4 linked regions of the Homo sapiens genome follow. The protein of the gene in region 1 interacts with the protein of each later gene in a pairwise test. Each region holds a gene or a part of one and is shown in the gene's direction. Other genes may lie near its edges.

The links.
Region 2: the proteins of RNF122 (region 1) and CDS2 interact in binary tests that used the Homo sapiens proteins (3 or more experiments, as listed by UniProt).
Region 3: the proteins of RNF122 (region 1) and GPR37L1 interact in binary tests that used the Homo sapiens proteins (3 or more experiments, as listed by UniProt).
Region 4: the proteins of RNF122 (region 1) and PLLP interact in binary tests that used the Homo sapiens proteins (3 or more experiments, as listed by UniProt).

The regions. Positions count from the first base shown.
Region 1 is NC_000008.11:33,563,986-33,571,644, reverse strand, and holds the start of RNF122 (RING finger protein 122), read left to right. Parts: upstream 1-4,516; 5' UTR 4,517-4,921; coding exon 4,922-4,946; intron 4,947-5,739; exon of another isoform or gene 5,740-6,069; intron 6,070-7,659. UniProt on the Homo sapiens protein: May induce necrosis and apoptosis. May play a role in cell viability.
Region 2 is NC_000020.11:5,185,529-5,193,007, forward strand, and holds part of CDS2 (phosphatidate cytidylyltransferase 2), read left to right. Parts: intron 1-229; coding exon 230-298; intron 299-1,158; coding exon 1,159-1,311; coding exon of another isoform or gene 1,312-1,331; intron 1,332-3,538; coding exon 3,539-3,658; intron 3,659-4,206; coding exon 4,207-4,310; intron 4,311-4,573; coding exon 4,574-4,706; 3' UTR 4,707-7,479. UniProt on the Homo sapiens protein: Catalyzes the conversion of phosphatidic acid (PA) to CDP-diacylglycerol (CDP-DAG), an essential intermediate in the synthesis of phosphatidylglycerol, cardiolipin and phosphatidylinositol.
Region 3 is NC_000001.11:202,118,293-202,126,348, forward strand, and holds the start of GPR37L1 (G-protein coupled receptor 37-like 1 precursor), read left to right. Parts: upstream 1-4,624; 5' UTR 4,625-4,671; coding exon 4,672-5,301; exon of another isoform or gene 5,302-5,441; intron 5,442-5,658; exon of another isoform or gene 5,659-5,766; intron 5,767-7,249; exon of another isoform or gene 7,250-7,426; intron 7,427-8,056. UniProt on the Homo sapiens protein: G-protein coupled receptor. Has been shown to bind the neuroprotective and glioprotective factor prosaposin (PSAP), leading to endocytosis followed by an ERK phosphorylation cascade. However, other studies have shown that prosaposin does not increase activity.
Region 4 is NC_000016.10:57,255,576-57,261,130, reverse strand, and holds the end of PLLP (plasmolipin), read left to right. Parts: intron 1-2,546; coding exon 2,547-2,669; intron 2,670-4,101; coding exon 4,102-4,218; 3' UTR 4,219-5,034; downstream 5,035-5,555. UniProt on the Homo sapiens protein: Main component of the myelin sheath that plays an important role in myelin membrane biogenesis and myelination. Plays an essential function in apical endocytosis. Regulates epithelial development through the regulation of apical endocytosis.

The DNA.
Region 1 (7,659 bases):
TCGGCTCACTGCAAGCTCCGCCTCCTGGCTTCACGCCATTCTCCTGCCTCAGCCTCCCAAGTGGCTGGGACTACAGGCGCCCGCCACCACGCCCAACTAATTTTTTGTATTTTTAGTAGAGACAGCATTTCACTGTGTTAGCCAGGATGGTCTCGATCTCCTGACCTCGTGATCCGCCTGCCTCGGCCTCCCAAAGTGCTGGGATTACAGGCGTGAGCCACCGTGCCTGGCCTGAAAATGCTTCTTATACAAAATTTAAAAGTTTGGGAAAATATTGTCACAATTTGTCTAATTCTGAAACATGACATGTTTACTTGGGGTTATTTATCGTTTTTTTGGTGGGAGGGCAGGGAACTGGGTCTCACCCTGTCACCCAGGCTGGAGTGCAGTGGCACAATCTCAGCTCACTGCAACCTCTGCCTCCCAGGCTCAAGCCATCCTCCTGCCTCAGCTTCCTGAATAGCTGGGACTACAAGTGCACTCCACTATGCCCAGCTAATTTTTGTACTTTTTGTAGAGATGGGGTTTTGCCATGTTACCCAGGCTGGTCTTGAACTCCTGAGCTCAAGTGATCTGCCTACCTTGGCCTCCCAAAGTGCTGGGATTACAGGCATGAGCCATGGCCCCCAGCCATTTATCATTTTTTACAACCATCCATGGTTACCATTCTCTGCTACATTATCGGGTCACACTTGGAGGCCCATGAAAGAGGGTGTCTTACTAAAGATGAAAGGAGGTGATTCAGGCCTTTTCCCCCATGCACCTCCACAGAATTGACTGCTTCTCTCCAGAGTGTTTCTCTAATGTTCACAAGGCCTTAAAATGAGGGGGCTCACGGAGTGTCTAAGAGGAAGCTGGAGTCAGGCAGTGGGAATAAAAAGAATCCCTTGACTCCTCAGAAGCTTTCCTAGGCCAGGCACGGTGGCTCCTGCCTGTAATCCCAGCACTTTGGGAGGCCAAGGCTGAGGGATTGCCTGAGTTCAAGAGTTTGAGACCAGCCTGGGCAACATGGCGAAACCCCAGAAAATTAGCCAGGCATGGTAGTATGCGCCTGTAGTCCCAGCTGGTCGGGAGGCTGAGGTGGGAGGATCGCTTGAGCCTGGGAGGTGGAAGTTGCAGTGAGCCGAGATGTCACCACTGCACCACTGGGTGACAGAGCAAGACCCTGTATAAAAAAATTAATTAATTTTAAAAAAAAGTTTTTCCGGAAGTTTAGTATTATTTTTTCCCTTTCCATGGAAGATTTTAAAACATATTTCTTTCTTTTCTTTTCTTTTGTCTTGCTCTGTTGCTCAGGCTAGTGTCTAGTGGCACAATCATAGCTCACTGCAGCCTTGAACACCTCAGCCTCTGGAGTAGCTGGGACTACAGGCATGTGCCGCCATGCCCAGCTGATGTTTATTTTTTGTAGAGATGGGGTCTTGCTATGTTGTCCAGGCTGGTCTCCAACTCCTGGCTCAAGCTCCTTCACCTCAACCTCTCAAAGTGCTGAGGTGTGAGCTACCACACCCATCCTAGAAACATATTTCTACCTCATATTTATCAAGTAGCTTTGAATATATGGCCCATCATCTTCTTTACTGTTTCAGTTTCTTCCTCAATAAACCAAACTAGTCTTCCTGACTCATGTGGAGCTGAGTCACCTGGTGGTGAGGGTGGAGGAGTGAGAGATCTAAATTTGGTTGACATGGTGTGAGAAATCAGCTTATCTTTCATAGAACCCTTCAGTCCAGGAAAATGCTGGGACTGAACCAATCATTTCAAAGATGCCCAGAACCAAAGCCCTTCTACCAACATATAACTCCCAATGTCAGCCATCAGTTGAGGTCCTGTGGCCACACTGGCCAGGAGGGACGAAGGGAGGAGAGTGTGAAGGGATACAGCAGTTTTTCGAAATTGGAGTCCTTAAGTGCCTCTGGAGATCTTATTGAATGCTTAAAATATCAGGCTTAAAATATAAATTGTTGCACCTGTAATCCTAGCTGCTCAGGAGGCTGAGGCAGGAGAATCACTTGAACCTGGGAGGCGAAGGCTGCAGTGAGCTGAGATCAAGCCACTGCACTCCAGCCTGGGCGACACAGAGCAAGACTCCGTTTCAAAAAAAGAAGAATTTCCATCATTCCTACCTTTAAGGGTGTTTTCCTTCCAAGAACCTCTAGTCCAAAGGCGAGTGGGACGGGAGGTGTTCCTCACTTCCCATCAATTTTCCCTTCAAAGGCTCTCCTTCTTTCACAGTCTGGCGCTGGAGGCAGTTAGCAGGAGAGCCTTAATAAAATTAGGATTACCCATCACATCTCTCCCCCGAGCCAATGAATAGAAAGAACAATAGTTACCATTATGCACACTTTTTTTTTTAAAGACTTTATTTTTCAGCGTAGTTTTAGGTTCACAGCAAAATTGAGAAGAAGGTACAGAGTTCTGATACACCCCCAGCCCCACACATGTATAGCCTCCCCCATTAATCCTAGCACTTGGGAGGCTGAAGCAGGCAGATAGCCTGAGCTCATGAGTTTGTGACCAGCCTGGGCAACGTGGCTAAACCCAGTCTCTACAAAAAAAAAAAAAAAAAAAAAATTAGCCGGGCATAGTGGTGAGTGCCTGTAGTGCCAGCTACTCAGGAGGCTGAGGTGGGAGGATGGCTTGAACCCAGGAGGTGGAGGTTGTAGTGAGCCAAGATCATGCAACTGCATTCAAACCTGGGCAACAGAACCAGACCTTGTCTCTAAATAAATAAAAACAACAACAAAAAAGAATATACACAGCCTATGTTCAAGGAAGAGTAACAACAAAAAGCTTCATGGCTGATGAATAGTGTGTGGTGAAGGGGAGTATTTGAGTATGAGGAAGACTGAAACAAATAAGGCTAGACTGAAACACTTTATTTTAATAGTTTTTTCTTTTTTCTTTTTGAAACAGAGTAGTCTCATTCTGTCGCCCAGGCTGGAGTGCAGTGGCACAATCACAGCTCACTGCAGCTGCATCCTCGACTTCTCGAACTCCAGTGATTCTCCCACCTCAGCCACCAGAGTAGCTGGGACCGCAGGTGCGCACCACCAGGCCCAGCTAATTTTTGTATTTTTTTTACAGGTGGCTTCACCATGTTGCCCAGGATGGTCTCAAACTCTTGAGCTCAAGCAATCTGCCCGCCTCAGCCTCCCGAAGTTTTGAGATTATAGGAGTGAGTCTAGACTGAAACATTTTGAATGCCACACTCTAGTTTACAGAACTTTATTCAGTAAACACTGGAGACCAACAAACGTTATCAAGCAAAGAAATGTTCAGATTTACATTTTACAGAGATAATTGTGACCAGAAGGGATGGACTTGAGAGTGAAATCAGAGCACTGTTTCTTTCAATAGCCGCATGAGAATTTGAGGGGTGGGGAAGACAAGGCACATTAAAATGAAAATTTCTGGGTCCACCCTTTATTGAATCAGAATCTCTGGGTTCAAGGCCTGGGAATCTGCATGTTACATCTCAAACATAGGAGTGATTCTTGTAGGCTCTGAAGTCTGAGCTATAGACTAGAATCAGAATGGCCAGTTAGGAAGCTTTTGCAATTATCCAATTAAGAAATGAAATGTCCTGGGTGCCATGGCTCATGCCTGTAATCCCAGCAATCTGGGAGGCTCAGGCGGGAGGATCACTTGAGTCCAGGAGTTCGAGACCAGCCTGAGCAACATAGTGAGGCCACTCATCTATACAAAACAATTAAAAAGTAGCTGGGCTTGGTGGCAGGCACCTGTGGTCCCAGTTTCTTGGGAGGCTAAGGTGGCAGGACTGCTTGGGCCCAGAAGTTGGAGGCTGCAGTAAGCTATTATTGCACCGCTGCACTCCAGCTGAGTGACAGAGCAAGACTCTAACTCAAAAAAGAAAAAGAGGGCCGGGAGCGGTGGCTCACGCCTATAATCCCAGCACTTTGGAAGGCTGAAGCAGGAGGATCACTTGAGGCCAGGAGTTCGAGAACAGCCTGTCCAACATGGCGAAACCCCGTCGCTATTAAAAATACAAAAATTATCTGGGCATGGTGGTAAGCGCCTGTAATCCCAGCTACTCAGGAGGCTGAGGCAGGAGAATCACCTGAACCCGAGAGGCAGAGGTTGCAGTGAGCTGAGATCGCGCCGCTGCACTCCAGCCTTGGCGATAGAGGCAGACTCTGCCTCCAAATACATAAGTAAATAAATAACAGATCTGTAGGCGGAAAACAATGTGGCAGTAATTGTTCCTTTGCCTTGGTGTCCCTGGGCAAAAGGCAGGCCCCCACTCCGGGGCATCGCTCGTCGCCGCTCCATTCTCTGCAGACCGAAGTTTCCCCAGGCCTGGGAAGACTAAGTGGGAGGCGCCCACCGTGCGAAGATCCTCCCGGCTTCCAGGGAAGGGAGGCTGGGCCTGCAAATAATAGCCGGGGGCAGGAGAAAGGCTCCGATTGGTCGGAGGGAGGGTGACGAACAAGGGGCGGAGTTTTCCTGGGGACTGGTGGGGGAAGTAAAAGGGAGGGGGTGTGCACCGCCGGGTGTCAGTTTCGGAACCCCAGCCAGCTCACCTCTGCGCCGCTGAACCCGATCCGAGCCTCCGGCAAAGGTTTTTCCCTCCTCCCCCGGCCGAGGGCTTCTGCAGCCCGGGCACCCCCGCCCCGCGGCGCCCCACATTCCCCCAGCCCGGGGCCCTTGGCGCGTGCGCTCCGTGCGGCTGTGCTCCGCGGGACTTTGTTTGTTTCCTCCTCGTCCCTCTTTGTTGGGCTGAACACCAGCCTCGTCAAAGCCCCCCACTCCGGAGGGAGTTCGGCTTCTCCAGCAGGGCGGCTGCAGCGCGCTGCCCCGACCCCGCCTGCGGCCCCTCACGCCGCTAGTGCTCCCACCCCGCCCTCCTGGCACCCCGCCTGCGTCCGTTCGCCCGAGGAAGCCAACCGCGACTTCATTGATGCACCCATTCCAGTGGTGTAACGGTGAGTCCCCGGGGCGAGGGCCGAGCCTACGTGGGGCTGGTGGGAGCCGCGGCGCGGGGTGCGAGGTCGGACAGCAGCGCGCTGGTCCTCCCTCGGGAACCAAGTTTCTCCTGAAATGGGACAGTCGAGAAGGCGTCTTGGCGCCCCACTCTGCTCTGCACAGCGCGGAATTTGAAACTATCCAGGTTTCACTCCAGAGCCTGGAAGGGGCCTCCGGACTGGCGGCGGGCCGGGGGCGTGGGAGCCGAGGGGTTCCCGGCCTTTGTGTGGCGGCCCGGCTCTTCTACCCCCTTCCCCTGCCTTTGTGCGCTCAAACTCTGTTCTTTGTTGTGGTTGTTGGAGGAGAATTAAATCCGCACTCGGGCTGGGATCTCCTAGAGGGAGCTCAAGTTCCCGGCCTGAAACTTTGCAGGCTATTGTAAATATGTATACCGTGCAGCGTGCGGGACTGGGCGCGGGGGTAGCTTCCTCTGGCTTTGTTGGTTTCCCACGGGCTGCTGGCGTGGCTTGGGTGCTTGCGGAAGACTGGATTAAAGAGTCGCTTTCGGCCAGGCGCGGTGGCTCACGCCTGTAATCCCAGCACTTTGGGAGGCCGAGGCGGGCGGATCACCTGAAGTCGGGAGTTCGAGACCAGCCTAACCAACATGGAGAAACTCCGTCTCTACTAAAAATACAAAATTAGCCGGGAGTGGTGGCGCATGCCTGTAAGCCCAGCTACTTGGGAGGCTGAGGCAGGAGAATCGCTTGAACCCAGGAGGCGGAGATTGCAGTGAGCCTAGATCGTGCCATTACACTCCAGCCTGGGCAACAAGAGCGAAACTCCATCTAAAAAAAAGCCGTTTTCCTGAGTTGATAAACCCTCGCAGAGAGCTCCGCGCCCGGCTGTCCCTGGGGTGCGAGGCTGGCCTGGCGGGAGCCGTGTTTCTGGCCACAAGGCCAGATTAGGGTGTCTGCTCCTGAGCCCAAGTGAAGGCCACACCTCCAGACGCGACAACCCCTCGCCCCATTTCTCCCCAGGCCTGGGTGATGCTTCTAAGTTAGTTCATTTCACCTGAGGCTTTTTGGAGGTTCAGGTGATACTGGGTTAGGCTGGAGTCTGATTCCTCAGCGAGCTACCTGAAAGGTAGGTGTTTCTGAGCGGGACACTTCAAAACCTTGGATACTAATCGCCCCCCACCCCACCCGCTCCAGTCCTCCTGGGGTCCTAGTCTTGACCGCGTTGTTCCGATGCTTGGAGAGTTTCTGGGAGAGAGAGATGGGAAGCAGCTGGCCTTATCTCTCAGTATGGCAAGCGAGCTAGTTACAGGGGGAAAAAAATCATTCTTTAGAGTAGACTCCTGCCAGATCTTGGATTAATTATGTCAAGAGGCTTTGTTTTGAGGCAGGGTTTGGGTAGCATGTATACCCCACATCCCCCCACCCCGCCTTCCTCCTTTTGCTGGTCGGATCTCATTTCCTGAAAATGAACCAAGCCGTGTGTGATAGGCGGTTTTGTGGGAGAGGGGGCAGAGGATGGGGGTTGAGGAAGGCCCTTGCACCCTAGCATCTGGGAAAGATTCCCGTTGGCTGGGAAAGAGAAGCAGTTCCCAGATCCCCTGGTCTTTCTTGGCCAGCCCTTGTCTGACGTCATTCCTGCTCCCAGCCTGCCAGATGAGATGAGACATTCTGATGTCAGTGCTTTCATAGGTTGGCCGAGACAATGGAACAGAGACTTAGGGAGAAATGAGGCAGCTGTCAGTAACACTGCCCTTTCTGGGCAGCGCCCTTTCATATCAGATTTTAGACTTGCTGCTTTATTTTTTTTATTTTTTATTTTTTATTTTTTTGAGACTGAGTTTCGCTCTTGTTGTCCAGGCTGGAGTGCAATGGTGTGATCTCGGCTCACCACAACCTCCGCCTCCCGGGTTCAAGCGGTTCTCCTGCCTCAGCTTCCCGAGTACCTGGGATTACAGGCATGTGCCACCATGGCCGGCTAATTTTGTATTTTTAGTAGAGAGGGGGTTTCTCCATGTTGTTCAGACTGGTCTTGAACTTTTGACCTCAGGTGATCTGCCCACCTCAGCCTCCCAAAGTGCTGGGATTACAGGCGTGAGCCACTGCGCCCAGCCTACTTTAATTTTTTTTTTGAGAGAGGGTCTCACTCCGACAACCATGCTGGAGTGCAGTGGCACGATCAGGGCTCACTGCGGCCTCCAACTCCCAGGCTGAAGGGATCCTCCTGCCTCAGCCTCCCAGCATAGCTGGAACCACAGGTGTGTGCAACCATACCTGGCTACTGGCTAATTTTTAATTAATTAATTAATTAATCTACTTTTTGGGGATAGGGTTTCACTACATTGCCTATGCTGGTCTTGAACTCCTGGGCTCAAGCAGTCCTCCCACCACGGACTCTCAAAATGCTGGAATTACCTGCAGGAGCCACCTTGTCTGGCCCTCTTTGCACTTCTTAGAAAAGTGACTGAGAGATCCTGTCCTTTGACTCCTGTGAAGAAGCAACCCTTCCCTCACCCCTTCAGAAACTACCTGGAGCCCCTCTTTCCTGGGGCTGGTATTCTCTGTCCTTATACAGTTTTAAAGAAAAACTTACTACAGTGTCAGCTTTTGACCAGTAGACTATTTTGCCATTTCTTTAATAGTAACACAAGCAAATGAACCATCTCCTCTTGACTATGCTCTTCCCACCGACCTCTTTATCACGTGAAATACCAAGCTC
Region 2 (7,479 bases), on another chromosome or scaffold:
TCGTTTTCTAATATAAAACTATTCGAATGACTGATTGAAACAGAAAGGGAACCAAAGGGAGGAGGATATAAGATAGGGAACAAGGAAACCATATTTGGGGGAGCTTTAAAAGGTGACATGGTTAAGAGAATGGGGTTTTATGAAAGAAAGGTTCTTAACAAGTAATCATTGTTCGCAAAGCTATAGTTATCAAAACACCCTTTGCTGAGAACTTGCTCTCTGTCCACAGCTGTCCCCGAAGAAGACCTGGGAAGGCTTCATTGGGGGCTTCTTTGCTACTGTGGTGTTTGGCCTTCTGGTAGGTGGTGGCTTTCAGCTGTGTAAGGGATTGGGTGGACAGAGGCCTCATACCACCTTCCAAGGCCTGTCCAGAGCTGGAGAGTGTCTTTGGAGGCCAGGACTGTCCTGCTGAATGGCAACCTTGCCCTGAAGAGGGCCACTGGCCATGCCAGCCATCCACCAGCTTTCAGGCAGGGTGCTAGCAGTTGGAGAGCACCTTCTATGCCCTCTCGCGCCCAGGCATGGTGACATCAGCAGGTAGCCTTCTTGTCAGGCATTTGATGTTCCAAGGTCAGGGTGAGTGCACCCAAGGGAAGATGAGATACACAGCTTTTCTCCTATGTGTGCCTTGCCCAGAGGTGGGTGATTTTCCTGCCCTTTCCAGAGCACCATTCTCTGCTTCTGACCCTTGGGCCAGTCCTCCTTCTTCAGCACTGTCTGGCTGCCCTTCAGTGCTCACCGCCCAGCTTTGTTGCTTTCCAGCCTTGTTCCTCCTGAGATCTGCCTCTCACTGTGCCCCTTCCCCATGGCCTCTCTCCAGTTATCACTGACTTCAGAGATCTTGAGGAAAGTGGTCCTAGCTCCCCAAATGGGGAGAGTCTTCTTGTAGTTCTTTGCCCCAGTCCCTTCAGGTTTTCCCGGATTCTTTCGGGGCCTGGGTGTTTGGGTTCCTGTATGTAACCTTGGTGGGTCATGAGCCTCTTTTTTTTTTTTTAATTGAGGTAAAATATGTATGGTAAAACATGAACCTCTGAGCACATAGCTCGCAGTTAGCAGGGTACTAGGCACCCTCAGGAACATGGCCAAACCAGGTGCCTGTGTCTGGGCTGGATGGTTGGAACTTACTTCCTTGCCGGTCTCTCTGTTATTCCTCCTCAGCTGTCCTATGTGATGTCCGGGTACAGATGCTTTGTCTGCCCTGTGGAGTACAACAATGACACCAACAGCTTCACTGTGGACTGTGAGCCCTCGGACCTGTTTCGCCTGCAGGAGTACAACATTCCTGGGGTGATCCAGTCAGTCATTGGCTGGGTATGTGCCACTCACAGGGGGTGAGCGGCCTCCATGGACAGTGGCTACAAAGAGAGATCCCCCTCCATCACCTGCCCTCTGAAAAAAGCTAGCTTCCTCCTTCCCAAAGCTGTAAGCCCCAGGATGAAGGAGAATTGCTCACGCCAGGTCAGGGTATGGGCAGGACAGCTTTCCCCCAACATCAGATTGTTTAGACCAGTGGTTTTCAAAGTGTGTTCTGTGGATCCCTGGAGGGCCCTGGGATCCTTTTAGTTGCGGGGGTAGGGTGGGGGGGTCTGTGAGGTCACAACTGTTTCATAATTAGACTATGACATTATTTTCCTTTTTCAATGTGTTGACATTTGCTGTGATACGGCGCAAAAGCAGCAGTGGTTAAAACTGCGTTAAGGCAGTGGGTTCCTCATGCCACACACTCACAGTACAAACAGGCCAGTTCTAATGAATGTCTATGAAATAGTAAAGTTACTAATTTTGTTAAATCTTGACCTTTGTACACACACCTTTTTAACACTCTCTACTGAAATGGAAAGTATGTGTAAAACATTTCTGCTAAGTACTGTAGTACAGTGCTTGCCTAAAGGGAAAGCATGTGTGCAGTTGTTTGAGTTGTGAGCTAAATTAGCTGCTTTTTTTTTAGAAAAGAAAGTAAATTTTACTTGGAAAGAACCAACAAATTATAATTTTTCAGACTTGGGTATTTGGCAGACATTTTTCTTGAAAAGGATGAAGTGAGCCTATCACTTTAAAGAAAACAACTGAGGCTAGGCACAGTGGCTCACACCTGAAATCCCAGCACTTTGGAAGGCCGAGGCAGGCAGATCTCTTGAGGTCAGGAGTTCCAGACCAGCCTGGGTAACATGGCGAAACCCCGTCTTTACTAAAAATACAAAAAAATATAGCTGGGGATGGTGGCGTGTGCCTGTAATCCCAGCTACCAGCTACTCAGGAGGTTGAGTTGCTTGAACCCAGGAGGCGGAGGATGCAGTGAGCCAAGATCGCACCACTGCACTCCAGCCTGGGTGACAGAGTGAGACTGTCTCAAAAAAAAAAAAAAAAAGAAAAGAAAAATGACTGACAGTAATTGTTACCAAGGATAAAATTTGGCTTTCAAATGAAAATTAGAATTTTGGAAAGCTTAACCTGCCACTGTGAACTTGACAGCTTCCTAATACTTAAAAGCCTTTTCTGATGAGGTCTGTGATGATTCTTAACGTACGTGTGTGTGTGTGTGTGTGTGTGTGTTGATCACATGAGAAAAAACACAAACATATTTGACACGGTATAATGAAATGTGTCTACATTTGGAAGATTTACATAACTCAGTGAACCATTATTTTCTAAATGGCTGATGCATGGTGTTATATAGTCATGCATGGGTAAAAGATCCGTTCAAGTATAAGATAGACCAATGGATTTTAATGTAAGAGAGAACAAAGTCCATTGATAGAATTCTAGATTCCATATCACACCTAATATTCAAGAAATGACTACTTGTCAAGCTCTGGTGTAGTGTCAGAGAATACCCAAAACCATCTGAGGCTACGACTAAAATACTCTTTTCAACTATGTATCTGCGTACGGCTGGATTTTCTTTATATACTTCCACCAAAACAGCATGTTGCAACAGATTGAATGCAGAATATTTTAATGTTTTCCATTAACTTAGATATTAGAAATTTACAAAATGGGAAAAATTCACTCCTCTTATTGATTTAAAACCTACATGTATATAATTAGTTTCATAAAGAGTTACGAGGTTGGATGTCTTGGTCTGTCTAGTGTTGATAGAACACTTGGGGCTGGGTAATTTACAAAGAAAAGAGGTTTACTTAGCTTCTTTCTGCAGGCTGAGAAGTGTGAGAAGTGTGGCATTGGCTGCTGCCTGGCTTCTGGTGAGGGCTTTTTATGCTGCATTGTAACATGGCGGAGAAGGTCAAAGGTGGAAGCAGACACATGCAAAGAGGCAAAACCAGGGGCTTCATCACTTCATAACAACCCATTCCCTCGGGATGCCAGTGCTAATCTAGTCTCTTGACAGAACTCACTACTAGGAGAAAGGCACCAAGCCATTCATGAGGGATTTGCCCCTGTGACCCAAACACCTCCCACTAGGCATCACCTCCCAGTGAGGCCACAATGAGGATCAAATTTCAACATGAGTTGACAACTCAAACCGTAACACTGGGCATGTATGCACCTAAACTTTTACTTCATTTACTCTTCTCAGAAAACGGTCCGGATGTACCCCTTCCAGATTCACAGCATCGCTCTCTCCACCTTTGCCTCGCTCATTGGCCCCTTTGGAGGATTCTTCGCAAGTGGATTCAAACGAGCCTTTAAAATCAAAGTAGGAAAACCGTCTTACGTTCCTCTCATCTCACTCCCTCACCCATCTTCTGCCTTTCTCCCCCTTCCCTGCCCCCTCCAAAATACTAGGCTGTACACCCTGGCATTTAATGTGTGATCTTGACCCATGCACTGAATTTAGGTGAGTTAATTAATAACAATATTTTCAGGAAAATGCAATCGTTGTTTTTCAGTTTATTTGTTAATATATCTTTCTTCAAAAGAACATTTTGGGCCAGGCAGTGGCTCATGTCTGTAACCCCAGCACTTTAAGAGGCCAAGGCGGGAGGATCACTTGAGGCTAGGAGTTAGAAAGTAGCCTGAGCAACATAGCAAGACTCCTGTCTTTATTAAGTAAATGAAATAAGAACATTTTGTAATGCAATAAAATTGTGTCCTAATATAGCCTCACCATTAGATTTCATACTTCTCACCTTCTATTGCCCTCAGCTACTCAGCACAGAAGCCTGACATTGGGGTGGGACCATTAGGCTGGGATTGGTTAGTGGCTGAGCCCAAGTTCACCCATCCTTCCCCTGCCTCTAACAGGACTTTGCCAATACCATTCCTGGCCATGGAGGCATCATGGATCGCTTTGACTGCCAGTATCTGATGGCCACCTTTGTCAATGTATACATCGCCAGTTTTATCAGGTATAGTACCTTTCCATCTGAACCAAGTTGGTGGATTTTTAAGTACGGTGCAATTCTAGAATTTTAGCGGCATCTAAGTTCCAGTGAAAAGCATCCCAAATAATGCAGTTTTCAGTTGTTTCTGCTTACAGATTTTCTGAGGCCTCCTGTCATCTGTTAATAGATAACTCTCTGATCCAGAGATCAGAGCAGCCACTCAGATAATCAGGCCCTGGAAGCTTCCGGGCCCTAGCTCAGTGCTGTTTCTTCACATTCTGTTCCAGAGGCCCTAACCCAAGCAAACTGATTCAGCAGTTCCTGACTTTACGGCCAGATCAGCAGCTCCACATCTTCAACACGCTGCGGTCTCATCTGATCGACAAAGGGATGCTGACATCCACCACAGAGGACGAGTAGGGGCCACCCAGGGCCAGGAGAACAGGAACAGAACTGAGCAGGGGCAGGTCTCCAAGGCAAGCCCAGCTGGTGTGACTTAGACAATGACGAGGCTTCAACTCACTGTCTTTTTTTTTTTTTTTTGGAGGGTATTTTTTATTTGTGGGTTCAAAAAATCTGTATATACAGTCTATGTGTTTAGAATTTGTGTTGTAAGTAAACTACAGCTTTGAGTTGGAAAGAAGTCACGGGTTGTAAAACCATTTGGATTTTTTTAAAACAAAAGTATTAATAATCTGGAAGACAGTGTTGCCCAGGTCAGGAGTGTTTTCTTGGTGGTTCCAGCCCCCATCAATTGAACTGTTTCTGGGCTCAGTCAGACACAGACATTCATCTGTGTCTGACCAAATCAGGGGACTTCCCCACCTGTGGTGGGAGGCACAGCTTAGATGTTTTGTACACCTGGTCTTTTCTAGAAATCCCTGCTTGGAGCTGCAGAAGGGTTGCCTTCTGTAGGTCGGAGGAATGGAGGCTTACTAACCAGGTAAGCCTTCTATGCATCCACACCAAAATCCTGCAGAATGTAAGTAAGCTCTGCTTTATAAGATGGGTTCACCTTCATCGCAGACTGAAAGTTTCAGTTTTTATTTTTTTCAGAAAGCACGAAAAATTATTTATAATAGTCTGGAGAAAAAACACACTGTAATATTTCAAGTGTATGCAGTAGAATGTACTGTAACTGAGCCCTTTCCCACATGTCTAGGCTCCAATGTCTCCTGTAGGTCCACCTAACTGTGTGTTTTCAGGGACAATGCCATCCATGTTTGTGCTGTAGACTTGCTGCTGCTGAATCCTTTCTGGGGACTTTCTCATCGGGCAGGGAGCAGAGGGCTTCTCGTTCATGCACCCTTTGCCTGAACACCCATGTAGCTGCTGTGTTGTGTATATATTACTCTTAAGAGGAGTGTGTGTGTCTGTGTTTGTTTTAAAAGTCACTTATTTCTTACAGTGATTTCAATTGCACCATGACTTCTTCACTAAAACCACAAAGTCCTGCTTAAAACTATGGAAAACCTAACCTGATTAGAGCCTTGACTATTTTGAAGATTAAATGCACACTTTTTATATAATGTGACCAGTTTAAATGTAGTTTGTATTGTACTGGGGGACCTTTCGTTGTTGTTGTTTGCTTAAACTGTGATTTTTTTTCCCCTCCCTAATTTCAGGGGTGAGATTGACTTTGGGAAGACAGATTAGTTCTTTGTCAGGCCAACAAGTGATGGAGTGCGGGAGAGAGAACTTGGCACCCAAATATATCAAACTATTCCGTGCCGTGGATGTTTTCATTGCCAACGAGGGTGTAATGATTTGCTTCTGCACCTTGGTCTAGTGCTGGTTTGTGGTGTTTTTGTTTGTAAATTAGCCTCACTGCCTCCCTGAAAGTGCACAGTCAGCCCAGGTCTCTAGAGTGTCCAGCAGAGGATGGAGCCCTCGGGATGTTTCAGCTCACACATCCTTGAGTGACTTCCCATATGTGTGTGGGGCTGAAGCGGCTTCTTTCCGCTGAACTTTTATTTCCATTTCAGCCTCGTGGCTTCTCTTATTCAGGTCCAAGGCCCCTTAAAAACAAAACATATTATCGCAAGGGCTTTCATTTCAGTATTGGCTGTGTCACTGGCAGGATGCATCACTCTCCAGGGCCTCTTTTTCGGAGCTACTCCCAATTCCACTCTTCTGTGATTCTGGCTGAGCAAGTTCATGCCGGTAGAGGCTCATTAAGTGAGGTCCTGGGCACCCCCCAAACAGGAAGTGTTTTCAGGCCCTTACATGCTTATCCTTAAGGTGAGTAGGTATCTCAGCAGCACACCCGAACAGTAAAGGTGATCAATAACGAAACTGTAGTTTTCAGATTGAAGAATGAACCTGGATCACCAAACTAGATACCGAAAGGGCTCCTCATTTGTCTCTTTTGTCCCATTGTGGGCATATGGTGGGCTCCTTGAGAGGAGGGAGTCTCAGCTGGGGCCTGGCTGCAGAGACCTGCTCTTGAATAGGGCTGCCTTTGGGATCAGGGAGCCGAGCATACTGGGCAAGGCTCATCATGTTCCTTTGTGGAAGTGGTTACTTGGTGGGGGTGGGGTGGGGAAGGGGGGTCTAGGAAGCCGAAGCTGAGTGCGCACTAGAGCTGCTAGCAGGCAGGCCAGAGGGTCAGCTTGTGTTTTATTTTCTGATTTCTCCTGCATGCTTTCTGGAGATGAGGATTTTTTGTCAGGTAGCTAGGAGAGCACTGCCACCTTGTGTCCATATAGCACAATGTTTCTCTTTCCTATTCACAGACAAGATTCAAGAAACCATTTTTACGTGTGTACATTCAAATCTTCATGAATGGCATCACTTGCTTTAGACCCATTTTTTTTTTATTGGTCAGAAATAAAATGTGACTGCAACTGTGTGCCCTCCCTTGTCGTGAATTCCCTGTTTATCACTTCCATGCATGGTTTTATGCTTCTCATTTGTTTATGTATTCATGAATACTGCATAGTCCTGATTCAGAGACTTTTGCTTTGCTTTCCAACTTGTATCCCTACATTCTCACAACAGCCTTCTTACCTCGGGTGAGAGTCATGAGCACCTTACCAGGCAGGGAGCTTCCCCAGGATAGTGTGGTGGAGTCAGGACTCACTCCATCCTGCACTTTACCCACAGGACACCTGGAGGGTCCCCCAGCCCTGCTTGCTTTTGTGAACGTCGTGTGAGTACACCGAGGTGTTGCAGCTTTCCTTCCCTCTAGCTC
Region 3 (8,056 bases), on another chromosome or scaffold:
TTCGCTCATTTTTTTCATGGGTGGCACTTCCACACCAGCTCAGATGCCCTCAGTGCCACCTCAGTGCTTCCCTCCCACCCGGTTCCAACTAAGTACCTTTTCTTTTCTTTTTTTTGAGACGGAATCTCGCTCTGTAGCCCAGGCTGGAGTGCAGTGGCACAATCTCGGCTCTCTGCAACCTCTGCCTCCCAGGCTCAAGCGATTCTTCTGCCTCAGCCTCCTGAGTAGCTGGGATTACAGGCGTGTACCACCACACCCAGCTAATTTTTGTATTTTTAGTAGAGACGGGGTTTCACCATGTTGGTCAGGCTGGTCTTGAACTCCTGACCTCGTGATCCGCCCACCTCCACCTCCCAAAGTGCTGGGATTACAGGCGTGAGCCACCGCGCCCGGCCCCAGCTAAGTACCTTTTCTGTAGCCAGCACTGGGGAAACTCCCAGGGAGAGGAATGGGGAATTCCTGGGATCATGGAGAGACACTCCCAAGGGCTAGGAAAGCCTTCCATCTCTGCCTGGCATGCTTCTGAATAGGGGAGATGGCTCCAGCTTGTCCAGAGAGAGGAATCTTCCTAAAGTAGAACTACAGGTAGGAGAAAAGTACTTTTGGGGGACCCATGCTGGGCACCCTCCAGGGGGGTGGAGGGGAAGAGTAGGCACATCCCCCATCCCTTTAGTCTCAGCCCCTGGGAACCCACCCTGTCCCCTATCATCTCTTTTCAGATGGCCTTCTCAGACAGCCACAGAAGGTCTGTGGGCAGGACCTGGGCAGAGTGGGATGGGTTAAGATCCGATGGGGTGAAGGGCTGAGGCCAGGCCCTTAACTACCATCACTGGACATTTGGTTCCACCTAGTGGCCTCTGATGTTCCAACCGTTCTCACAGAGACCGGCACAAGGGGGTGCCCTTTCAGGCATTCAGTGTTTATTGAGCACCTACTCTGTGTGAGGCCAAATGTGAGGTTTGATGGAGGCATATCCATGAGCATAAAGAGGCTGGGCACGGTAGCTCACGCCTGTAATCCCACCATTTTGGGAGGCTGAGGTGGGTGGATTGCTTGAGCTCAGGAGGTCTAGACCAGCCTAGGTGATACAGGCAGACCCTATGTCTACCAAAAAAAACACAAAAGGCTGGGCATGGTGGCATGTGCCTGTGGGCCCAGCTACTTGGGAGGCTGAGGTGGGAGGATCAGTTGAGCCCAGGAGGAGTTGAGGCTGCAGTGAGCCTAGATCCTGCCACTGCACTCCAATCTGGGTGACAGAGCGAGACCCTGTCTCTGAAATAAAATAAAATAAAATAAAATAAAATAAAATAAAATAAAATAAGAAGCAGAAGGTCAGGCAGGGTGTGTGCACCTGTAGTCCTAGCTACTCTGGAGGCTGAGGTGGAAGGATTGCTTGATCCCAGGAGTTCAAGTCTGCAGTGAGTATGATCATGTCACTGTGCTCTAGCCTGGGCAATAGAGCAGGACTCTGTCTCTGAATTTTTTTTTTTTTAAAGAGCAGAGAACTAACATTTATTCTGCTCACACGTACCAGCCCTGGGCTTGGGTCCATACTGTATTGGCACGTGCCTGTGGAGCACTGAGGATCCCACAGCAGAGACAGGACTGCCAAGTGCCTGGCCTGGTCACTTGGCTTCTCTGGACTTCCGTTTCCACTCCTGAAAAATAAGAAGGTTGGTGTAGATTATCTCTAGCATCTCTTCCTATGTTAGAATTCTGTGAAGTCACACAAAGGAGTGGTTAAGAGTTTCAGCTTTGGGCTGGGTGAGGTGGCTCACACCTGTATTCCCAGAACTTTGGGAGGCTGAGGCGGGTAAATCACTCGAGCTCAGGAGTTTGAGATCAGCCTGGGCAACATGGCAAAAAGCCTGTCTCTACTAAAAATACAAAAATTAGTCAGGTGTGGTGGTGCACATCTGTGGTCCCAGCTACTCTGGAGGCTGAGGTGGGAAGATTGTTTGAGCCTGGGAGGCTGAGGTTGCCGTGAGCCAAGATCATGCCACTGCACTCCAGCCAGGGCAACAGAGCCAGACCCTGTCTCAAAAAAAAAAGAGTTTTAGCTTTGGAGTTGGACAAACCTACATTTGGATCCCAGCTGTCATTCACTAGCTGTGTGTTCTTAGGAAAGTTGCCTTACCTTTCAGAGTCTAGGGTAATAATATAAAGATTAAGTGACAATTATAGCAAGCATTTAGCACAGAGTGTGGCACTTGGTGAGTGGTGATGCTGCAGATGATGGATGATTCTAGTTACCCAAATCCCCAAATAGCACACCTCTCATCTCCTCTCCTCTCCCCTCCCCTCCCCTCCCCCAACTTCCTTTCCTTTTCTCTTTCTTTTTTGATGGAATCTTGCTCTGTCGCCCAGGCTGGAGTACATTGGCCGCAATCTCAGCTCACTGCAACCTCCGCCTTCCGGGTTCAAGTGATTCTCCTGCCTCAGCCTTCTAAATAGCTGGGATTACAGGTGCCTGCCACCACGCGTGGCTAATTTTTTTTTTTTTGTATTTTTAGTAGAGACGGGGGTTTCACCATGTTGGTCAGGCTGGTCTTGAACTCCTGACCTTGTGATCTGCCCACCTCAGCCTCCCAAAGTGCTGGGATTACACACATGAGCCACTGCGTCTGGCCCTTTTTTTTTTTTTTTTTTTTTTTGAGACAGAGTCTTGCTCTGTTGCCCAGGCTGGAGTGCAGTGGCATGATCTCGGATCACTGCAACCTCTGCCTCCTGGGTTCAAGTGATTCTGATGCCCTAGCCTCCCGAGTAGCTGGGATTACAGGTGTGCACTGCCACATCTGTCCAATTTTTGTATTTTTAGTAGAGATGGGGTTTCACCATGTTGTCTGGGCTGGTGAAGGTGGTAGGTTTCAATGACAGCAGCATAATGCCGTGGGAGTTGGGAGGAGGGAATGATCTGACTCACTCTGGGGCAGGTCTTCGAGTTAATTCTCCAGTGGATTCTCCTAGGCATCGTGTGGTCCGTCCTCAGAACTGTGCCTCCCTAATGTGGCTGAGTGGATTCACTACCCACCCCATGCTTGGGCTCTGCCTCGACCTCTCCCTCCCATGCACAGCCAAAGCCGCTCAAAGCTGCTGGTTTTCCTTGACTCTGGGCTTCTCTCCATCACCCACTGCCTCCCAACAGAACCCCCGGTCTCTGCATCCTCCTGTTCCAGATTGCTAGGACCCCAGCTGCCCATCAGGGACCCCTCTAAAATAACTTAGTTGAGTCATTGTTTGCCTACTTAACAACCTGTGATATTCTCCATTGCTTATGGGATAAAATCTAAACTCCTTGGCTTGGCATACAAAGTCCTTTACAGTCCAGTTCCTCCTCTGCTGATATTTCCAAGCTCTTTGTCCCAAGTGCCCATGCTCTCTCCCCACCTCCCTTGCACTCTAGTCCCCTCGACAGACTTGCTCTCTTGCGGGAACATCACCCACTTCCACATCACCCAGCCTTTGTGTGTGCTGTGTCTTCTGCCTAGAGCACCCTCCCTTCCCGTAGTCTGTCAGGCAAGCTCACAGCCATTTCTCGGGATCCATTCAAATGTCACCTCGCTTGGGAGGCCTTCCAGATCCCCCCCAGATTTTCTTGGGTTCCCTCAGCATCATGACCTTTGCCTTTCATAGCATCTATCATGCTGAACTTACACATTTACTTCCTTCTCTGGACTGAAAGCTCATTGGTGGCAGAGATCCTTTACATTTTTGTATTCTGAGTGTCTGGAACACAACACGTAGTCAGTAAAGACGTGTTATTGCAAATGTCCACACATCTTGTGTCTGGCTCAGAATATGGTGTTTTAGGCCGGGTGCGGTGGCTCCCAGCACTTTGGGAGGCTGAGGCAGGCGGATCACCTGAGGTTAGGAGTTTGAGACCAGCCTGGTCAACACGGTGAAACCCTGTCTCTACTAAAAATACAAAAATTAGCCGGGTATGGTGGCGGGCACTACAGTAACTGTAATCCCAGTTACTCAGGGGGCTGAGGCAGGAGAATCACTTGAACCCAGGAGGCGGAGGCTGCAGTGAGCCAAGACCGCGCCATTGCACTCCAGCCTGGGCAACCGAAAAAAAAAAAAAAATTAGAAATCTCTGGAGTCAGATCTGGGTTGTGGGCCTTGCTCTGCCTTGTATCAACTATGTGGCAAGTGACTGACCTCTACAAACCTCAGATTTGTGATCTGAGATTAATCAAGGGTTAATTGAGAAACCAGCTGAGTGCTAGCACCTAGTAAGTGTTCAGTAAGTGACAGTGATGGTTATTGCTGAGTTTTGAATGGAGGAGCTGCCTTAGAATCAGGAGACCTGCGCCCCAGTTCCCATTCTGCCCCACCTCCCTGTGTCACCCTAGGCAGGCCACATTTCCTCCCTAGTTTCAGGGGCCTGAAGCAGATGCCCTCTTAGGGCCCCACAGCCTGACATGCTGTAGGGCCTGAGAAGCGGCGTCGTGGAGGACGAGATGTGTGAGGGCAGCAAAGAGTGCTATGTGTCCAGCAGAGGGCCCTGCCCGGCCTGTGGCCGGAGGCTGGGAGGGAGGGCAGGCGAGTGATGCCAGACGCCTGACTGGAGGCGGATCCAGCCGGCCAGCTGCCTCTCTGGAGCCCAGCTCTTGGGCCCCCTGCACTCACCTGCTCTTCCTGGGCTGGCTGTCTCCTGCTCATCCAGCCATGCGGTGGCTGTGGCCCCTGGCTGTCTCTCTTGCTGTGATTTTGGCTGTGGGGCTAAGCAGGGTCTCTGGGGGTGCCCCCCTGCACCTGGGCAGGCACAGAGCCGAGACCCAGGAGCAGCAGAGCCGATCCAAGAGGGGCACCGAGGATGAGGAGGCCAAGGGCGTGCAGCAGTATGTGCCTGAGGAGTGGGCGGAGTACCCCCGGCCCATTCACCCTGCTGGCCTGCAGCCAACCAAGCCCTTGGTGGCCACCAGCCCTAACCCCGGCAAGGATGGGGGCACCCCAGACAGTGGGCAGGAACTGAGGGGCAATCTGACAGGAGCACCAGGGCAGAGGCTACAGATCCAGAACCCCCTGTATCCGGTGACCGAGAGCTCCTACAGTGCCTATGCCATCATGCTTCTGGCGCTGGTGGTGTTTGCGGTGGGCATTGTGGGCAACCTGTCGGTCATGTGCATCGTGTGGCACAGCTACTACCTGAAGAGTGCCTGGAACTCCATCCTTGCCAGCCTGGCCCTCTGGGATTTTCTGGTCCTCTTTTTCTGCCTCCCTATTGTCATCTTCAACGAGATCACCAAGCAGAGGCTACTGGGTGACGTTTCTTGTCGTGCCGTGCCCTTCATGGAGGTGAGTGTGTGTTCTGTTTGAGCTCTGCTGGGAGGCTGCAATCCAGGGAAGGGACTCAAAGTCTCCATCAGGTCTTTGGAAATGGAATTTGTGGGTGTGCAAAACCTGAGTCTTGGAGCTCTGACTTGCTCCTCCTTTACCTTGGAGAAGGAGACAAATACGGTATTGGTTTCTGGTTGCTCTCAAGAGAAGTAGGCAGGCCAGGGGGACAGGCGGGTGTGTGGGGCCCCTGGGTTCCAGCCCCAGCCTGATCTTCTGCTTCGGGAGCAACCTCAAGGCAGGCCTTTGCCACTTTCTCCAGACCCTAAGCTGCCCTCTCCCTTCCTCAGCCCTTCTCCCCTGTCCCACCCAAGATACCTCTGTCCTTTGTTGTGACTCCTCTTCTTTCCTCTGTACCCCCTGCCGCTGCCCTGCTCCCACAGCTTCCTTCGCTGCTCCTCCGTCTCCTGCCTCCTGAAGGAGTGCCTGAAGGGAGAGCCCAATTTCCTTCACACCCCTCTGGATCAAGTCAGCATCCACTCCATGAGAATACAAGCACCAGAAGCAAAAGACCGCTCCGTTCTTCCCTCCCTGCTGGGATTCTCATTGTTATCGTTGTCATTTCCATCAGCAACTTCCTAGATCCTCTCTGAAAGGGATACCTGGTTCTGGGCACTGGAACTAATGGGGGGCTCTAGTCTTAGCTCTGCCACTGACATACTGGGCGTCACTGGGCAGGTTGCATTACCTCTCCAATTTCTTTATCTCCCAACCAGGGCGGGTAGACCAGATGGTCCTTCCAGCTGGCCTGTTTCACAGTTCTAAAGTATACCACTATGCCCTTACTTCTGGTAGCGTCTACGATAAGTCCATGGGTGTCAAAGGATATGTAGAGCATAGAGAGACAACTTAAAACACTGCAGAAACATACTGATGTGTGCATTTATGCAAGACACAGCAAGGCCACCCTCTCTCTCTCTGTAAGACAAAATAAGCAAACAGTCTTTCAAATTTTGGCTGCATGGAGTGTAATGGAGTGACTGTGGTCTCCCTGTGAAGCTGCTGTTCCTTCGTGAATGATGCTGCATGACAAGGGGGACTTGCCTGGCCGGAGAAGGGCTCAGGATCAGCATTACGGACACAGGTCCTATTCCAAGGTCTGTCCCCACCTCACCATGTAACAATGATGATGTCATAGTTGGACAGACTCCCTGTGTCTCAGCAGTGGGTACAGTCCTTTCCTGTCCTTCCCAACCCAGGGAGACTGACTAACAGTGGTACAAAGTTACTCCACCCTGAAAGAAGACCCTGTGCCAGGCACAGTGGCTCATGCCTATAATCCCAGCACTTTGGGAGGCCGAGGCAGGTGGATCACTTGAGGTCAGGAGTTCGAGACCAGCCTGGCCAACATGGTGAAGCCCCATCTCTACTAAAAATAAAAAATTAGCCGGGTGTGGTGGCACGCACCTGCAGTCCCAGGTACTCAGGAGGCTGAGGCAGGAGAATCGCTTGAACTTGGCAGGCAGAGGTTGCAGTGAGCCAAGATTGCGCAGCCTGGGTGACAGAGTGAAATTCTGTCTCAAAAAAAAAAAAAAAAAAAAAAAAGACCCTGCAACTGGAGAGAGGCTTTGCATTCTTAGTTATCATCTTGTGCTCACGACCCAGGTGAGCTGTGCATGCTTAGACACAGGACTCTGAAATTGAGCAGACTAGATTAGAAACTGGGCTTTTCCCATCACTAGCTGTGTGATTTGGTAGATTACTTTAACTACCTAAATCTCAATTTCCTCATTGGTAAATTGGGGATAATAATAATAATAGCTATCTGGGTGAATTCTTAAGGGATTAAATGGGTGATGTCTATACAGTGCTTAGAATTAAAATGGTATAGAGGAGAAGGGGAAAAGGGCAGACACATACGACCTCTTGTTTGCATGTGGCTGGTAGGTCAATGAACACCTGGCCCTACCTGACTGTGGGTCCTGACATATGTAATGTCCTCCTGGGCCAGCCCCTCCACACCTCCTGGAGGATAGAGATGATCCACAGGCTGGTAGACAGTCTTCCTTCTAGGCTGGGTGGTGGGACAGGTGGAGGGAGAAAACACTCTTTCTTTTTTTGAGACAGAGTCTCACTCTGTCACCCACAACACCCTTCTTCTTTATTTGAGACGGAGTCTCATTCTGTCACCCAGAGTGGAATGCCGTGGTGTAATCTCAGCTCATTGCAACCTCCGCCTCCCAGGTTCAAACAATCCTCCCACCTCAGCCTCCCAAGTAGCTGGTACCGCAGGCGTGTGGTACCACGCCCGGCTAATTTTTGTATTTTTGGTAGAGACAGGGTTTCATCATATTGCCCAGGCTGATCTCCAACCCCTGAGCTCAAGCAATCTGCCTGCCTTGGTCTCCCAAAGTACTGGGATTGCAGGCGTGATCCACCGCGCCCAGCAACACCCTTTTATAGGGAGGATCTCAGGATGGTCCTGAGGAGGGAGCAGGAGAGGGCAGCTTGGAATAAAACTTGAGATATTTTTGAGATGTAAAATAGAAGGGCAGGGCCGGGCACGGTGGCTCACCCCTGTAATCCCAGCACTTTGGGAGGCCGAGGTGGGCGGATCACGAGGTCAGGAGATCGAGACCATCCTGGCCAACATGGTGAAACCCCATCTCTACTAAAAGTACAAAAATTAGCTGGGTGTGGTGGCGCACACCTATAATCCCAGCTACTCGGGAGGCTGAGGCAGGAGAATCACTTGAACCCGGGAGGTGGAGGTTGC
Region 4 (5,555 bases), on another chromosome or scaffold:
CTCTAGTCCCAGCTACTTGGGAGGCTGAGACAGGAGAATTGCTTGAACCCAGGAGGCGGAGATTGCAGTGAGCCGAGATCACACCATTATACTCCAGCCTGGGTGACAGAGCAAGACTCCACCTCAAAAAAAAAATTTCCCTCTGGGGGTGGTCAGAATTTGTGCCTGTGTTGTGTGAGTTTGTGAGATTGTAGCTTGGCCCAGGTAGGCAGCCCTGTGGCTGGAGGCTGTGGCAAGCTGTCAGAAGTTGCCCAGGCCAGGGCCTCAAGTGTGCAGGACAAGCTCGGGCACCTGGCTGCCTGCAGGTGAGGCCCTGAGGCCTGGGAGAGGCTGGGCTCCCCAGGTTTGCCCCAGGACAGTCTCCCCAGGACACAGGGCTGAGAGCGGACATGGGAAGTACCCCGGCCAGACACACAGAAAGCTGCTGGTTTTTTTTTTCCTCTGACCCGGAAAACCCCTGCAGCTGGGGTCTGAGGCTTTCAGTGAGAAGAGAGGCGAGAAAGGCACATGATTGTAAGACAAGCAAGGCTGGGACTAGGCGGCATTGTTTGGAATTCAATGACTTTTTAAACCGAGGAAACGTGAGTCATCCTCAAGACAGAATGGGTTTGTTAGATCTCGACATCCCTGGCAGAAACAGGCAGCGTTTGCAGGGGTCGCTGGGCTTGCAGGGAAGATTTTGGGGCGAGGAGGCGGTGCCTTGACTTCCGGGCTCAGGGTCCACCCCCTCCCTCACGTCCCAGGGACCTCTAAGAGAGAAATCTCCAGAGATAAAAGCCTGTGTGTCTCTTAGGTGCAGATTTGGGGCTCCAGCCGTGGCTGTTAATGGAAGGAGGCTCCCTTCTGCCACAGTGGCAGGACATTGCTTCTTGTGCTTCTGGACCCTCAACGAATGGGGCAGAGAGGGCTTAACTGCATCTAGAGAAGGCTGGATTAGCATGGCCAATTTGGGATTTTCTGGCATGGGGGCTACAGACCCCTACAGGATCCAGGCAAGATATGTGAGTAAATTGGGTCAGGAGGGACCCTGGAGAAGCCAGCATCCATCTGCCCATCGCAAGCTGCCTCTATACTCACTTCATCTGTTCCTAGTGGGAATGCAGCCCCTTTGGAGCGAAATCTTTTGATATCCTAAGTTTTTTTTTTTTTTTTTTTAGACAAAGTCCCGCTCTGTTGCCCAGGCTGGAGTGCAGTGGCACGATCTTAGCTCATTGCAACCCCTGCCTCCCAGGTTCAAGTGATTCTTCCGCCTCAGCCTCCTGTGTAGCTGGGATTACCGGTGGGCACCATCACTCTTGGCTAATTTTTGTATTTTTATTGGAGACGAGGTTTCACCATGTTGGCCAGGCTGGTCTCTAACTTCTGACCTCAAGTGATCTGCCTGCCTCGGCATCCCAAAGTGCTGGGATTACAGGCATGAGCCACACTGCACCCGGCCAAGATTTTTTTAATATAAAATTTTTACATGAAGTCTTCAGGTTTTCATGAAATCTAATTTTATAATGTTGGTAATTTTTTAAAAGTATATTGGACGAACTGAATGAATGTTTGAGGACCAGGCGTTTGAAGACGGTGAATGGGCTCCTGGGGCCAAGCGTTTGGGATGAGGGACTGGTCCCTGGTTGTCAGCAGAGGGCCCCTTCCTGCCAGTCTGGTTCCATATCCAGCTTGAAATATCTGGTCCTCTTGGTCCTGACCCTGGCATTTGCTTAGAGCCTTGAGCTTAGGATGTGGCCAAGAGGGAGACAAAAATTCTTCCCCCTGAAGGCAGAGAGGGATGTGAGGCCCAGCCCAGGACTGGCCACAGAGCCAAACCTTGCAGTGGTACCAGGGATGGCCTGGGCTTGGCCCTGGACCACACTTGGAGGAGTAGCCTGTGTTTCTTTAGCTGGTACAAAGAGATGGGTCATGGATTGGGCTCTTTCTGTGAGGAATGGGTCTGGCACTGCCACTACCCCATCACTGAGGCCCTCCTGTCATTCCCCTCCTCCAGCCTCAGGTGTGTTCATGCTCCCTGCTCAGCAGGCCTCCTGGGGACCAGGGCCTCATGGGCTGACTCCCTGGAAACTGTGGCCTCTTGAGGCCCTGTTGGTGGGAAAGACCCAGGTGTTTGCATCACCATCCAATGGCTATTCAAGGAGTGTGCCAGTGGGAACCAAGAAGCCCCAACCGTTGGTCTTGTCTTTTTTTTTTTTTTTTTTTTTTTTTTTGAGACAGGATCTCACTGTGTCACCCAGGCTGGAGTGCAGTGGTGTGATCATGACTCACTGCAGCCTCAACCTCCCGGCTCCAGGTGATCTTCCCATCTCAGCCTCCCAAGTAGCTGAGATCACAGGCATGCGCCACCATGCCTGGCTAACTTTTTTATTTTTGTAGAGATGGGGCCTACCTATGTTCCCCAGGCTGGTCTCTAACTCCTGGGCTCAAGCGATCCTTCCACTTCAGCCCCGCAAAGTGCTGGGATTACAGGTGTGAACCACCGTGTCTGGCCTCTCTTTGTGTCTTAAGCCTTTTCTCTCCCCACTCCCTACCCCCATGTCCTGCAGTTAATGATCTTTAACATCAGCGCCACCGTTCTCTACATCACCGCCTTCATCGCCTGCTCTGCGGCAGTTGACCTGACATCCCTGAGGGGCACCCGGCCTTATAACCAGCGCGCGGCTGCCTCGGTGAGTCTGCTTCCCAGGCTCCCTTGGTGGTCTGCAGGGTCTCAGCCCCAGGACTCAGGCTGCTCGCTTGGTCTGAGGCCAGGCACCTGCCACCTCCTGAGGGGTTGTCACCTGAACACTCAGTGGGTCTTAGAGGGGAGCCGGGCCGCCTCCAGGCTTCCATAATTAACAGTGGAGAGTGGTGTGTGGTGGGCAATGGAAGTTTTGGGTTAACTATTTTTTCTTTTTTTTGAGATGGAATCTTGCTCTGTTGCCCAGGCTGGAGTGCGGTGACGTGATCTCAGCTCACTGCAACCTCTGCCTCTTGGGTTTAAGTGATTCTCCTGACTCAGCCTCCCAAGTAGCTGGGACTAGAGGTGTGTGCTGCCACACCCGCTAATTTTTTTGTATTTTGTATTTTTTTTGGAGATGGAGTCTCACGCCTGGCTAATTTTTGTATTTTTAGTAGAGACGGAGTTTCACCATGTTGGCCAGGCTGGTCTTTTGAACTCCTGACCTCAGGTGATCCACTCGCCTTGGCCTGTTAAAGTGCTGAGATTACAGGTGTGAGCTGCCACACGCGGCCTGGGCTGACTATTGAACCTTGTTGTAAATCAGCTGTGCCACACTGCCTTAGGGTCACGTGCCCCCTTGGAGAATGTGAAAAACATGCTCTCCCACTGACAAGTGCACGTGCAAAAACCTTTTGGTTTAAACCATTCTGGGAGATTCATAGGCTCTCCCATGAAACCCAAACTCTGGGCCCACGTCAGGTGGCCAGTGAAGTGGCAGTAGTCCCCTCCACGCCTGTCACCCTTCACACCACCAGGCCCTGCACACCATCTCCTCCCAGGATCCTGCGACACCCACAGTGAGGGAGAGGAAGGGACTACCAGTTCCTTTTGACAGACAGGAGGCTCCTGCTCAGAGAAGTTGGACGCCAGGCCTGGAGCCACGGCCAAGCCCAGGGGAGGGCAGGGCCTCAATGGGCACGCATTTGGTTCCTTACTCTTCCTGATGAGGGCAGTTTTGAAATCAGCAAATTCAGTGATGGGGACAGAGACGGGGAGCTTCTGAATGTGGCTGCAGGTGTTAGTATAGAGGCTTGAACTGGTTCTAGGAGATTCCTAGGGTGTCCTTTGAATGTTGTCTTTTTAGAACTAAATCCTTGCTAGGTGTCCCCTCTGTCACTCTTATCTTCTCCTTCATTGCCCTTATCACAATCTGACAGGCCCTGCCTGTGGTTCTTAGCTGTTTCCCATGGTTAGAAGGTAATGTTGGTATCCCAGGACCCTGGTGCTCATCAGCCCCATGATAAACAGCTGTGAAATGCATCTGGCTAAGTGTGAGATGGTGCGGCTGCCACAACCCCTCCTGCCTGGCCTGAGATCTGGTTGGAGCTTGTGTCACTGTCACCCTCTCGGTCCTTAAGCCCTTCTCACCTCTCTTTCAGTTCTTTGCGTGTTTGGTGATGATCGCCTATGGAGTGAGTGCCTTCTTCAGCTACCAGGCCTGGCGAGGAGTAGGCAGCAATGCGGCCACCAGTCAGATGGCTGGCGGCTATGCCTAAACCACCTGTGCCACGGCCCCCTCTGGGGCTGAAGCCGCCGCTGGGTCACAGAGCAGGGTCACCCTGCAAGCCTGAAGCTGGGGAGCCCTGCGTGGAGTCAGCCCAACAGGGACTGCATTTGCTCCTCTCTGCCCGTCAGACATAAGCTCTCACAGCGCTAAGGAAGCAGGCCCAGGCTGGCAGGCATCTCGGCTTGCAGGAGGCCAACTGCTGAGACCTCTTCTCCATCCCCCTTATTCAGTGGAAGATGACGGGGGATCTGAGGCTGTGTCTCTGCCTTGTCTTTAGAGGACTTCAGCGTCCAAGACTGGGGCCCACCCTTCTCACCAGCACTAAATGCACTAACAAGGACTCCAGACCTGCAGCCCCAGACCCGCCGTAGTATAAGCCTAACAAGCAACACGTAGCACCTTAGTCTTTGTTCCAGGAGAGCTGAGCAAGCTGGTGAAACCACTCTCCTTCCTTTAAACACCGTTTCAACCAACCTCTCCCTGGAGCCAACCTGTAAAAAGTGGGTTGATTGCTGACAGCATGGTCTTCCCTCCCTGCATTTCAGACATACCAGTTACTGAAAGCAAATCAGTTTTAAGTGATTTCTCAGTGCTGAAAAGCCTGTCCAGGTTTCCTTCCCTTTCCCAAGCCTCTCTCTGTAATACTCCCTTTGGGCGAAGCTAACATCGGTGCCTCCCCGACCTTGCTGACTAGGCACATGGGACGCAAAGGAGGGAGGGAAGCAAGGCCTTGCCTGGCGAGTTGTCATGTGGTTGGTGGTGACTGTTTTATTTTTTTTAATAAAAATAAAGATGAGAGAAATTATTTGGACAAGATGTTGGCAAATCACTTTTACAGGTGCTTGTAACCTCCAGGAGACCTCAGCTTGACTGTAGAAGATGCCTGCTGTAGGGCAGTTCACGTTCTGGAGTCGTTCAGCACCACCTGCGAACTCTTTGACCGGAGGAAGGCTGCCTATACTTCCTGCTTGCTGGGTCTGGAACAGTCCTGGTTTATGCTGTTTGTGCTGGCATAAATAGAATAGCACGGCCTTTTATTCTCACAAGTGACTCAGTTTGACAATAACTTAGTCACCCTTGCTTTGGGCAGGTTAGGTGAGCTTACTGAATCAAAGATTTCAACAATATCATCTACCTTGAAAGTCTGTGAAGCTTGGAGGTCATATAATCAAGGTGGCTGGCCATGCTGCCTGCTCAGAGCTGGTAGAGACAGCAGAGGAAAGCAGCTGAGTACTCCTGAGCTTATTTTTCCAACACCACAGAACAACGTTCTCTGAACAATAAGGTAAAAGCATTTCTAGGTACCCTCTGTACCCTTTTGTTATT